2 linked regions of the Homo sapiens genome follow. The protein of the gene in region 2 purifies or fractionates together with the protein of the main gene of each other region. This does not show direct contact. Each region holds a gene or a part of one and is shown on either strand. Other genes may lie near its edges.

Region 1 (7,203 bases), on a different chromosome or scaffold from region 2:
ATCCCAACTTGGATTTCATTATTTTATAAATCATGAGCTCTTTAAAAAATGCTGACATTTAATGAGTAAATTCAACTAACTCAGGGTTTAGTTCAAAAGAATAAGCATTTATTGAATCTCTATTATGTACAAGGCATTGGACCAAGTGCTAGGGAGACTACGTGGTGATAAGCACATAAAAAATAACATCTCCATCCTGAGCAACGTAGTGAGACCCCATCACTACAAAACATAAAAAGTAACATCTCCATCCTGAGCAACATAGTGAGACCCCATCACTACAAAACATGAAAAATAACATCTCCATCCTGAGCAACGTAGTGAGACCCCATCACTACAAAATATAAAAAACATTGGCCGGGCATGGTGGCACCAGCCTGTGGTCCCAGCTACCTGGGAGGCTGGGGTGGGAGGAGTGCTTGAACCCAGGAGGTCAAGTCTGCAGTGAGCTGTGATTGTGCCACTGCACTCCAGCCTGAGCGACAGAGAAAGACCCTGTCTCAAAAAATAAATAAATAAATAAATAAATAAGTAAAACTTTATGAAACATACTATTTCCTCCTTTTTGCTTATCTGTCAAGAAACTCAAAGCCCAATTTCTTGTTCAATTGCAATAATGTTTTCAGGCTAGATTTTCTATAACAATTCTCTTTTATTACAATGACTGTTTTTTTTTAGAATTGGAAAAAAATGTATATGTAACGTAGTAAATAAATAAGTCTAAGTCAGGATAAAGTGAGCTAAGTGCCACAAGAAAAATCGCAACAGAATGCAATGAGGATTCATAGGCTGAAAGGATTGTATGGGAGAAGACAGGAGGTGAGTTTTCCAGGAAAAGGTCATTCCAAGCTAAGAAGACAGATGGGCAAAGGTACAGAGATAGGAATGTGTAAGATACTTGGGAGAAAAGAGTTCAGATACAAGGAGGTTAGAACAGAAGATGGGTTGTTTCATTAACTCTAAACACACAAAAAATTAACTCTTCTCTACTAAGGGTCATATTAGCATGTTGTTCACATATGTGAAATTTTCCCCGTAAGCAAAGTAAGGGTATCTTCATCTTACTCATCAGTGAGATCAAAGACTGGAGAAGACATGACCATGTAATTTCAGCACAGACACAAGAAGCAATAATAAATCATGAAGAATTAATGAATTTCATCAAGTGAGCACTCCATAAATGCTTTGCAATTGTAGTCATACAGATCACTAAGACTTGTATACACTTTTGTTTTATGAACATTTAAGCTTTTACAATGGCCCCTATATTGCCTGTCTTCTCTAATGAGCTCAAAGCAATTCGTTCTTTGGAGGCCATGATCTATTCTTTACACTTTAAAGATGGAAAGACTGAAAAATTATGAGGACAATGATCTGTGTAAGGATCATGGAACTTAACAGACAAAAGAAAAACAATGCCTCATTATATGTACGAGGGAAATGCAAAGTAGAATCTGTGGGTTCATGCTGAAAAATCAAAATTAGAACAGCTAATCAAGTGAGAGAGTGTGACTAGTTCAAGAATTAATCACAAAATTCTCCATTGCCCATATTACAGATTAAACTTGTTTTTAGAAGCACATATGTGATTAAGAGCAAAGAGGTCAGTAACACTGGAAAAAGGTAGTGAACTAACATGGAAAGTTGTCTAGTCAGCTTTGTGTGGTTGCTCAGTTGCTGCAGCCCTATGTTTTTCAAACTACAGGTCACAATCCATTAGTTGGTCATGAAACCAATTTACAAAGTCACAAATAGCATTTTAAAAAATGTCTGTATACTTAGTATTGAAACATTTATTCTAGTTAATATCAGGTATAAATATATAAACATATGTTCTCAGTCAGACTGCAAATGACCCCAGCCTCAGTCAAAAAAAAGTTGTTTGAAAGCCATTGCTGTATTCTTCCCCACTGGGAAGTTAGGCTTGGGAGTCAATAGGACTGAGACTCCAAAATGCAGCTTAACCAAGAATTTCAGTACAATTGAAATTGTGACTGCAAAGATTATATTGCAACATATTATTATGAGAGGGTATGTGTGCCGTATCTATGATATTTCTATATCAAATAGGTAAGAATTTATGAATGTGAGTAGTAATGTCTGCACAGTTGTTCTAATATTTAATGCTAGATAAATGGTTTAGATCAACCATTCTCAACTTTTTAGTCTCAAGACTCCTTTACACTCTTAAAAATTATTTTTTTAATTACTTTTTATTTATTTTATTTTTGAGATGGAGTCTCGCTCTATCACCCAGGCTGGAGTGCAGTGGCAGGATCTCGGCTCACTGCAACCTCTGCCTCCCGGGTTCAAGCGATTCTCCTGCCTCAGCCTCCCGAGTATCCGGGATTACAGGTACCTGCCACCACTCCTGGCTAATTTTTGTATTTTTAGTAGAGACGGGGTTTCACCATGTTGGCCAGGCTGGTCTTGAACTACTGACCTTGTGATCCGCCCGCCTCAGCCTCCCAAAGTGCTGGGATTACAGGCAGGAGCCACCGCACCTGGCCCACTCTTAAAAATTATTAAGGACTCCCTCAGAGAACTTTTGTTTATGTGAGTTATACCCACCTATATTTACCATATTGGAAATTAAAAATAACTTTAAAGACCCCGGGCTATGTGTGTTTTGTTTGGAGTATATGAAGAAACTCTGGCCTCATATGTAGATAATGTAGTTGGAAAAGAGATGGATATTTTAATAGAGTTTTTCAGACAATTGTGGATATTCTTCTTGGATAATATACCAAAACTTGACAAGCTGGAGTTTCTCAAAGCTTAGCTGCAATGTACTATCTGAAATCCTATTAACTTTTCATACTGTTACATTAAAAATCCATTAGTCCACCTTGTCCTTGAATGGATCTTTTGCCTGTGCATGATTATGTAGCATGAGACATTGGTCTTTTGGAAAATACTGGACCACTGAGTTAAGCAGATCTTTGAGATATTGACACTTTCCATTATACAAGATTTGTTAAAATTGCGCTCATTAATATCATCACTGATCTCATCAGAAAAAAAAACATTAAGTACTGAGATGTCAAGCTCATGGCAGTAGATACACATTTTCTAAACTTTTAATTCTGGCTTGAAGGCTTAAAAATTATCATTGGCAGCAGTAATTGTCCCTTGTTTTCCTGAAAGTGACAGGCACACTTTATTTATTTTCAGAAAAATGTCTGTCAAGTACCTGTTTGAATAATCATAGTTTGCCCATCTTTCTTTCAAGTAAAAATGTTTTATGAAAATAAAAATAAAAACATGAATTCGGCCTACAACTCAAGCACAGAAGTATTTTCCTAGAGACAAATATGACACACTTCATTTTGCAGCAGACGTGCTTTATGCCTATTTCCTATTTTTTCATGCAGAATGTTAAAAAGAATTGTACCCAAGGATTAAGCTTCAATGAAATTAATAATTCTTACTGCTTATCAAGAACACCATCAGGTGACACTGGCTCTCTACCTTCTTCTTTTTTTTTTTTTCTTTTGTAACTGAGAGTGCAGATTAGTGACGCGTACTTTGACTAGCAATACAGTTTGGTGCCCCTGCCTTGATTGGGTTAAACCACCGGCGCTTTTAACCACCATTGTCTGCAAAACGTCACCACAGTGAACAAGTCAAATAAGTAAGTCTCAGCATTGTCATAAAAGGTTTTGTTTTTTTTTTGACCTTGCAGATCCCCTGAAAGGGTCTCAGAAACTCCCAAAGGGTTCCAGGACCACACCACACTTTGAGAACCACTGGGTGTTAGCGCATTCAGAAATCAATTCAGTTCTCTTTCTCTTCAGAGTTCTTGATGCTCGAGGCTTATTTATTGTGATAGATTTGATCACTGAAGCGCCAAAGAAAAGATATGCCAAGGGGTCGAACACATCCAAGAAGGAAATCCTACCGCACACACAGCTCAAAGGCTCGAGCGCGTAGAAAAACAGCTCTTGGAGAAAGAAACGGGATGCAGAGGGCAGGCCTGGGCTTGTCGTTGCCAGTGGCAACGATCCTCAGTGGGCGGGGCGCGGCCATCGATTAGTGAGGCCTTGCGTCTGTCGGCGGGCAGGAGGGTGGGGGTGACTGGAGCCGGAAGGCCTCCCGGGCCGTGTGGTCGCCGTGGGTTCTCGGTTGCGAGGCAGCTCGCTCGTTCTGCGATCTATTGAGAGTGGCTTCCAAGAGCCCCGTGCCTATGTCTGGGAGGGAGGGAAGATGGCAGCCGTGGCGGCAGGCGGCCTGGTGGGAAAGGGGCGCGACATCAGCCTAGCGGCCCTGCAGCGCCACGACCCCTATATCAACCGCATCGTGGACGTGGCCAGCCAGGTGGCTCTGTACACCTTCGGCCATCGGGCCAACGAGTGGGTGCGTGCGGACGCGGCGGAGCAGTGCAGCCCAGGGTTGGGGTGGAGGCGGGGGGCGTCAGACTCAGGACTTGAGGACCCGGTGAGGGGGAGGAGACGTTGACGCCCTGGAAGTGGGTGGATCTGGGGACTGAGGCCGAAGTTGTGGAGATGGGGTCTCGGGGGTTTGGGGGAAGGAAGGCGGATCTGTGGAGCTACCTGGAGTTGGGGAAAAGACTTAAATCTCTAACGTACCCAACGCTGGGAGACCAGACCGATCGGGTACGGCACCATAAGAGCCGAAGGAAAGGAAGGACCTGATACCTTATGGCCGGAAGACCGATGTGCTCGAGAAAGTAGAGCAGAGTTCTGTTACAGTGAATCTGTGGCTATGGGGGAGGCAGGGACAGCAGACGAATAAAAGTGCAGAGTTCTGATTTTGGAATGTCAGTCTTAGATGGGGCAAAGAGAAATCAAAACTTGATAGAAGGGGAGAAATCTGCAAGTTGTAAACTTAAGGGGAAACACCAAGAAAAGAGCCAACCTCGTCAAATAAAAGACAAAATGGGGCAGGGTCTAACACTTAGAAGGAAGCTGATGCTCTTGGGAAGATTATTACACGGCAGCACACCAAGTTCGATATTGGAGGTCATTTGGGAGCCAAATTATTTTAGTGCTCTTCTCAAAGCAGAGTCCCAGTAAATGGTAATGGAATGAAATTTCATTTTCCTCATAGTTAGAATGGGGTAGAAGCCTAGAACACTGGAATCCTGTTGCAGGGATTGCTGCTTGTAATTTTGTAACCCACCCACTCGAATGTAGAGACATGTAATTTTGTTTCTTTACTCATAATGAGTTTTGTCCAAATAATATTCATCATCCATTATGTATCACATACATGATATCCATCATTTTAAAATAAGTTACAAAACAGTATGGAGAACTTAGCCTTGATGAATGGATTTCAGATAAACTTTTTGTGTTCTTCAAGTCGGTTGTATAAACATCAAAACTTAATCTAGGAAAACATCCATGTTGAACAACTCTGTATTTTTTTTAACACCCACATTCATAAGCCTACTTATCTGCAGTATAGTTCAGCAGCCTGTAGTAAAAAACTCACCTGAAAATCATTAACATAAAAATAAAAAGACAAGCAAGAATGGGGTAGACAAACAGTTTTGCCCAAAGTTCTTAACGGAGGAAATTTGCCGGAATGGGGCAAAGAATTTAGGTCTGCTCTCCTAGTAGCCAAACACAAAAGGAGAACAGGAAGAGCTCTTTAATATTCGTTCTTCTGTAATAGAAAGTGTACCTCTTGATCAGGAGAAAGAGGTTATTTCCCCCTAGTTTCCAGGGGAATTTGTCACCTACTTTTTTTGTTTGTTTTTGTTTGTTTGTTTTTTCGAGGTGTCACCTTCGTTTTTACATAAAGAACATTGAGCAACATAGACAGTTTCCTCCATGGTAATTAAAAATATATAAAAAGATATTCTACATATGGCTATTTTGCTGCTCTGTAGAAAAATGCTAAAGGTATAATGTTATAATCCTGTAAAAGTAATTCCGTAGTAGAGAGATGAGGACCAGGGATGTATAGTTCTGTAAGTTGACTTGACACTGGGATTCGAGTCTGGAGAATCCCAAGAAACTGTCAGTATAAAGAGAGTAGAGCATTTCTCTTGAATAATAGTTGTTTCCTATAGGCTTTTGACCCTTATCAATGTGATAGATACCTTTTTAAGATAGTTACAGATGTTTATTAGATACCTAAAGCCTCATCAAAAAGCAGATGTGTCACAATGCATTAATTACAGGAGTTATGTTTTCCTGCTTGCTGGATATGTTGCCTTCAGACAGGGCATAATTCATTCAGGAAAAGGTCATTCTTTCAAAGTTCTAATCTTCAAGGCTGTGGTAGCCAGAAAAACAGAGAGACCTAGTTCAACTGCAGAGCAGTTGCTGGAGGCAAACTAATTATGACCACTGTCTCCATGTGCTGTCACTGTGGATGGGAGCCGTTTGAATGTAAACCTAATAAGAATATGAGAACATTGTTGAGAATAGAGGAGAAAGTATTTACAAGAAGGCAGGGGGGATCTTAAGGAGGGGAATTCTTATTGCCCTGAAAATGGATGAAGAATGACTTCAGCCTTTCAAAGGAGGAGAAATTAGGAAGGAAAGGTGTCTAGAAAATGAACTGCTTTAAAGAAGGATTAAGAAAGATTATGTGATGACTGGAATAGGAATTTTAGAGTTAGACCTACTCCCTGTTGCCAGGAAAGACTGCCCCCCGCCTCCAAAATATTAATACCTATGTGTCAATTGAAGACCATAACCCTGGTATTTTCCAGCTGTCAGTCCTTAGACCAGTGGCTCTCAGCTGGAGTTGATTTTGCCCCCAGGTGACATTTGGCAGTGTCTGGAGACGTTTTTGGTTGTCACACTGAAGGGAAGAGTGTTGTGACATCTATAGAGTAGAGGCCAGGGAATGCTGAGCCTGAAAACTGCCCTAAAGTGACTAACGTTGTGTTCCTAGCTAGTGGTTTTCTAAGTTTTTGGTGTATCCAAATAAGTCAGAGTTTTTTAAAAGTGAAAAATGCCAAACTAAAACCTCTGGATAATGAGACCCAGGCATTTCATATTGTTGAAAGCCTCATAGGTGACTCACGTGCTACATGCATGATGAAGAGAGATTTGGGAGGATAAGTTGAGACCTACTTTTTGATTATTTTAACTGAGAATAATCAAGTTAAAATAGAGATTGCGTTGAGCTAGTTTGTGTCAGACAGTGTGCAGAGTCCCCAAAATTTGCAAAACAGCACTATTTTATATTCCATTTTGGGTTTTTTAGTATTTTGAATTCTGA
Region 2 (5,065 bases):
TTTGCTGAGAATGGTTTGTTAATATGAGTGGAGACTGTACACTTAGGTGGGATTATAAAACCTGTTAGGATTAACATATCATTCTAAAGCACCATTCTAAATTGAGGACTCTGTGTTTAGAAGGATGATTTTTTTTATGTGTGTGTATGTATGTGTGGTATGTGTGGTGTGTTGTATGTGTGGTGTATGTGTATTTGTGTGTGGTGTATATGGTGTGTGGTGTGTTTGGTGTGTGTGTGTGTGATGTGTGTTATGGTGTGTATGTTATGGTGTGGAGGGTATGTATGTGTATGTGTGATGTGTATGTGTATATTGTGTGTGTATTTGTGGTATATGTGATGTGGTGTGTGGGGTGTGTGGTCTGGTGTGTGTGTGTGCTATGTGGTGTTTGGTATTTGTGTGTGGTGTGTATGTGGTGTGTGTGCGTGGATGTGTGTCTGGGTGGTGTGTGGGGGGGTGTGTGTGCTGTGTGTCATGTGTGTTTCCGTGGTGTGTGTGTGTTTGGGCGGTATGTGTGTGGGGTGTGTGTGTGGCATGTGTTTGTGTGGCATGTGTGGTGTGTGTATTTGTGTGTTGTGTGTGTTTGTTTGTGTGTTGTGTGGTGGGGTGTGGGAGGCTTTGACCTCTAGTCCAGCATTTTACAGTCTTTTTCTCACTGTATCCTTGGCCCTTATGCTTCTTAATACTAATGTAAGTTTTGTTAAAATAAGACGGAAGAAATAGCCATGGAGGGTGCGGAAGGGGAAGCCGAGGAGGAGGAAGAAACTGCAGAAGGAGAAGAGCCTGGAGAAGACGAAGATTCCTAGGCCTTTTCATGCTTCATTTCTTCCACTTCTCCAGGTAGCTACAGGATTCTGGGGTGGAAAAGCTGCTAGTTACCGTACTGTATGCTATCTGCGGCACATTTTGCTTAGTAACAGGAGAAAGGGAATTCCAATTCAGGGCTGTCTGTCTCCTTCCAAAGCCCTGGTCTGCACACCTTTCTGGCGGGGTCCAGCTCCTTTCTAGAGCTGCGGGGCTGCTGACCTTTCGTGGGTCTGTTTCTTGCACACTAGGGCACAGAAGGCTATGGTTGATGGGATTTCTAGGAAAAAGTGCACCTTTGATGCAGGGAAGAGTTTTGTTTTGCATTTACTTCCTCCTCTTCCTCTATATAAACTTTGTTTGAGAGAAGATACAGCAAGTGTCCTTTTATCAGCATTCTGTAACCTCAACTCCTCCACCAACCACATGTACAACTTTAGGGGGGTGACTACTGATGTTCAGAATGATGGCAATAAATTATAACCTTAAAAAATCACAAAGCTGGTGTTGAGTCATGAAAGAAAATTATTGCTGCCACGGGTTTAGTCGTCAGTGCTTGGTACTCCATTTCCGTTTCTATTAACCAGAACGCTCCTCTGGAAACACCGGGGAACATGGTGAAGTCCCTTTAGGTATCTTTGACAAGTAAGCTCTTGCTGCCTTCTGGTTTTAAACTTCCCTTGATGATGGAAAATAATTATGTAATTCTTACTAGTTTGATAAGTGCCACATATTAGTGAACATTTATTAAGTGTTAATAAGACAATAGAATCTGATAATGGATCTTGAGGACATGGGCGAATGCTTAAATATTGTGAGCCATACAGATAGGACAGCATGCGTGAAAACCCCTAAAGACATGAAGTGCATTAGCCGGGTGGGGTGGCTCATGCCTGCGGTCCCAGCTACTTGGGAGGCTGAAGCCTGAAAATCACTTGAACCCGGGAGGCAGAGGTTGCAGTGAGCCAAGATTGCACCACTGCACTCCAGCCTGGGTGACAGAGCAAGACTCTGTCTCCAAAACAAAAACAAAAACAAAAAACAAAACAAAACAAAACAGAAGACATTAAGTGCTATAAAAATATCTGTTTTTTCCTGATATTTGGCAAATACCTAGGTACATGTTGTATTATTATTAATATGATTGGCTTTGCAACTGAATTTGAGGCCATAGTTTATTCTCTAGGGCAACATTGCTCATGGTTTTGCTCTGGAGCTATAAGCGTTTTTTAAAAAATTTAAAAAAGTTTAGTCTTTTTATCTCCCATATTATGCCTCCACTGAAAATTAAGACGGCTTTTTGGGCTGTTACTCTCAGGAGATAATGATGGAATATGCACTCATTATTCTCTAAATGAGAGACACTTATCAAACCAGTAAGAATTACATAATTATTTTCCATCGTCAGTAGAAGTTTAAAATTACAAGGCAGCAAAAGCTGACTTGTCAAAGATACCTAAAGTGACTTCACCATGTTCCCCAGGCAGGTCTCTAGTTAAGAATTGGTGCATGTACAAAGAAGGGTGGATAGAAGGGTTTATTTGGAGAAGGAAGAAGAAATCTTTGGTGCTCTTTAAAAATTGGCTGACAAATAGCAATGCTCTTTGCACCAAAGTCCAATTTGAATAGTAGGGATGTCCCTTCTTAATAGACTTACAAAAAAAAGCTGATATAAAAAGCACTTAATCTATTTTTAGAGCATCTTGGAGCTAGTGAGGGTGGCCATCACACTTTGTTATTGGACCATAAAGGTTTTGTCATTCATTTGCTTGAATGAGAAAGTGATTCTAGCCCACGATTTGATGTCTCTCCAGGGTGTTTCTTTCATGCTCTGGACCCACAGACTTCTACTTTAAAGCCCTCTGCTTGCCACTTGGTTACAATTCCATTTCTAAGGAGTGGGTTGGGACTCATTTTTGAAAAAAAGGAAACTGGCAAGCTTAAGATATTCTACCTGAAGAATGGTAGAAAATGAAAATATGATTATATTTATCCTCATACCAGAAACAAAACAAAGCAAAACCCACAGTAACAGACTCATTGGTCCTGTTTAAATCCATGTCTGTTCACTCAGCTTGGAAAGTTCTTTAAAAATTGTGCAGTTTTAATGTGATAATTATAAAGAAATATTGGATGTGAAATGGCACAGCCGAGAGAGAATCTTTAATGTAGACAGATGGCTTCTTTATAGGCCATTTCCAAAAAAGAAAGAAAAAAAGGCAAGTTACAGTTGTGGCTAGCACATTCTGCCTGTTTCTCTGATGGGTTCTAGTTTGGAATCCAGTCCCTAATAGTCTGTTGTGAGGTCAAAATGTCTGACAGTGAAGGAGTAAACCAGGCAGCACCCTAAATCCCAGCCACTGACTCCCGAAGAGAGTCAATAACCTTTAAAATGCGACATGATGATGCAGTCAGGTATTCTGCAAACTATTTGGCTTCCAAAAACAAACCCATCTCATAACTCATAGATTATCCATGCATTTTATTTGAAAAGACGATTTTAGACAGAACAAGGCAATGAATGGAACTATGAAAGAATTCTCATTTCCCATAGTTGAAGTTGGAGTCAGAATCTATTATTATTATTATTTATTTATTTATTTTATTTTTTGAGACAGGGTCTCACTCTGTCACCCAGGCTGGAGTGCAGTGGTGAGGTCATGGCTCACTTTGACCTCCCTGGTCTCAGGTGATCCTCCCACCTCAGCTTCTTGAGTCGCTGGGATTACAGGCACGCACTACTATGCCTGGCTAATTTTCGTATTTTTTGTAGAGATGGGGTTTCACCATGTTGCCTAGGCTGGTCTCGAACTCTTAGGCTCAAGTGCTCTGCCCACCTTGGCCTCCCAAAGTGTTGGAATTACAGGCATGAACCACCACGTCTGACCTAGAATCTAAATTGATGTTTGAGTCCCAGGGCAAATAATGTCCAATATGAGACTGGATTCTACCTCCCCAAAGCTTGCCACTTAATACCTTCTTCTGGTGTAGCCATGAACCATTTAGAGCTCCGCCTCTGGGACCAAGCTGTCAATTCAGCCTATTTTCCATGAAAACACAGTGGGAAATTATAATTGGAGATGTTGTCTTCCTTATGGTGTTTGATATGTGTTTATGCAGAGAAAGGATATAAATCTAGCTTAGTTTTCCATGAGACAAATTCCCTTTCCTTTCAGTGGGGAGCAAATGATGACTAGTGGTTTATAGAATAAAAGGCAACACTTTCCTTTATTGTATGTTAAGTGATGAAGATTGTGGTAAACATTCTGTGTCTTTCTCTACAGTCTTTCCCTAATATTTGCCTTTTCTTTTAGAAAATGGAAGCTATGAAGCAACATTTCAAATGTCTCTCCACAAACCAAACTCAACAGAATACTTTGGCTTGAAGCCGGCACACCCAGGGTTACTGAGGACTTATGCTGCCTGACCTGGTTAGATGTACATGGAGGTATCTCCCGAATCATACAAAATTAAATGTGAAGACCGTTTATGCATACCTTCATGTGCCTGACAGTCTTGGCTTTTGAAGATTTTTTTTTCTTTTTTGCTCTGCATAGCTAGACCATCTTATTAATAATACTCTGAAAAAAATGATTTCAAGGCATGGAAGTTCTCTGTGATACAACAATAGTATTTCTTCAAATGCGCCTTATGCTACTTATCTCAGAAACAGGTTTTAAAATGAAGTGCTTTCCAGAGAACCATCATATAAATAAAGATTAATAGAAAAATATCTTGTCCCAAGGAGCATCATTTCATTATTTATAGTCTCTGCTTGCATATGCCTGAACTCCGTCTGTCTGTTGCCAAGTCTAAATCTTCAGCAGCACTTTTCTGTCTGCGTTGGGATCGATGTCTTTTATTGCACTGATTATTTGGTCCATGTTTTCAATTGCATTGATTGTCTCATTACGTCGTATTTTTTTTTTTATTACACACACGTTGTGCGTATCATCTTTGAAGCCTTATCTAACTGTAACTTTATCATCCACTTGTGTGGGGATGATGGTAAGGAGGGATGATGGTAAGGACAGAAATCTGCAACCCAGTGCCCTTCACACGTTTCTGAGCTGAAGGGAGTGGCTGCTTCTGTTTCTCCTGCTGTTGATTGATTTGTAGCCATGGCTGTGGAGACGGGTCCTGTAATTTTTCTTCCTGATGGCCAGGAGTGTGTGTTCACCTACAGCTGATCCAGCTCCAATGACTTGTACACCAGGTAAGTTTGATAGCATTTCTCTGCTCACCTGCCTGCCTCAGTTTA

What was found.
Region 1: the proteins of SH3BGR (region 2) and DCP1B purify together in Homo sapiens (affinity purification with mass spectrometry; 2 studies listed by BioGRID and IntAct, with this or other methods). This does not show direct contact.

Annotation. Positions count from the first base shown.
Region 1 is NC_000012.12:2,001,435-2,008,637, reverse strand, and holds the start of DCP1B (mRNA-decapping enzyme 1B), read left to right. Parts: upstream 1-4,180; 5' UTR 4,181-4,206; coding exon 4,207-4,356; intron 4,357-7,203. UniProt on the Homo sapiens protein: May play a role in the degradation of mRNAs, both in normal mRNA turnover and in nonsense-mediated mRNA decay. May remove the 7-methyl guanine cap structure from mRNA molecules, yielding a 5'-phosphorylated mRNA fragment and 7m-GDP.
Region 2 is NC_000021.9:39,510,970-39,516,034, forward strand, and holds the end of SH3BGR (SH3 domain-binding glutamic acid-rich protein), read left to right. Parts: intron 1-710; coding exon 711-806; 3' UTR 807-840; intron 841-4,118; coding exon of another isoform or gene 4,119-4,190; 3' UTR 4,191-4,535; downstream 4,536-5,065. Other genes in the region: GET1-SH3BGR (WRB-SH3BGR readthrough), read left to right, coding at 711-806.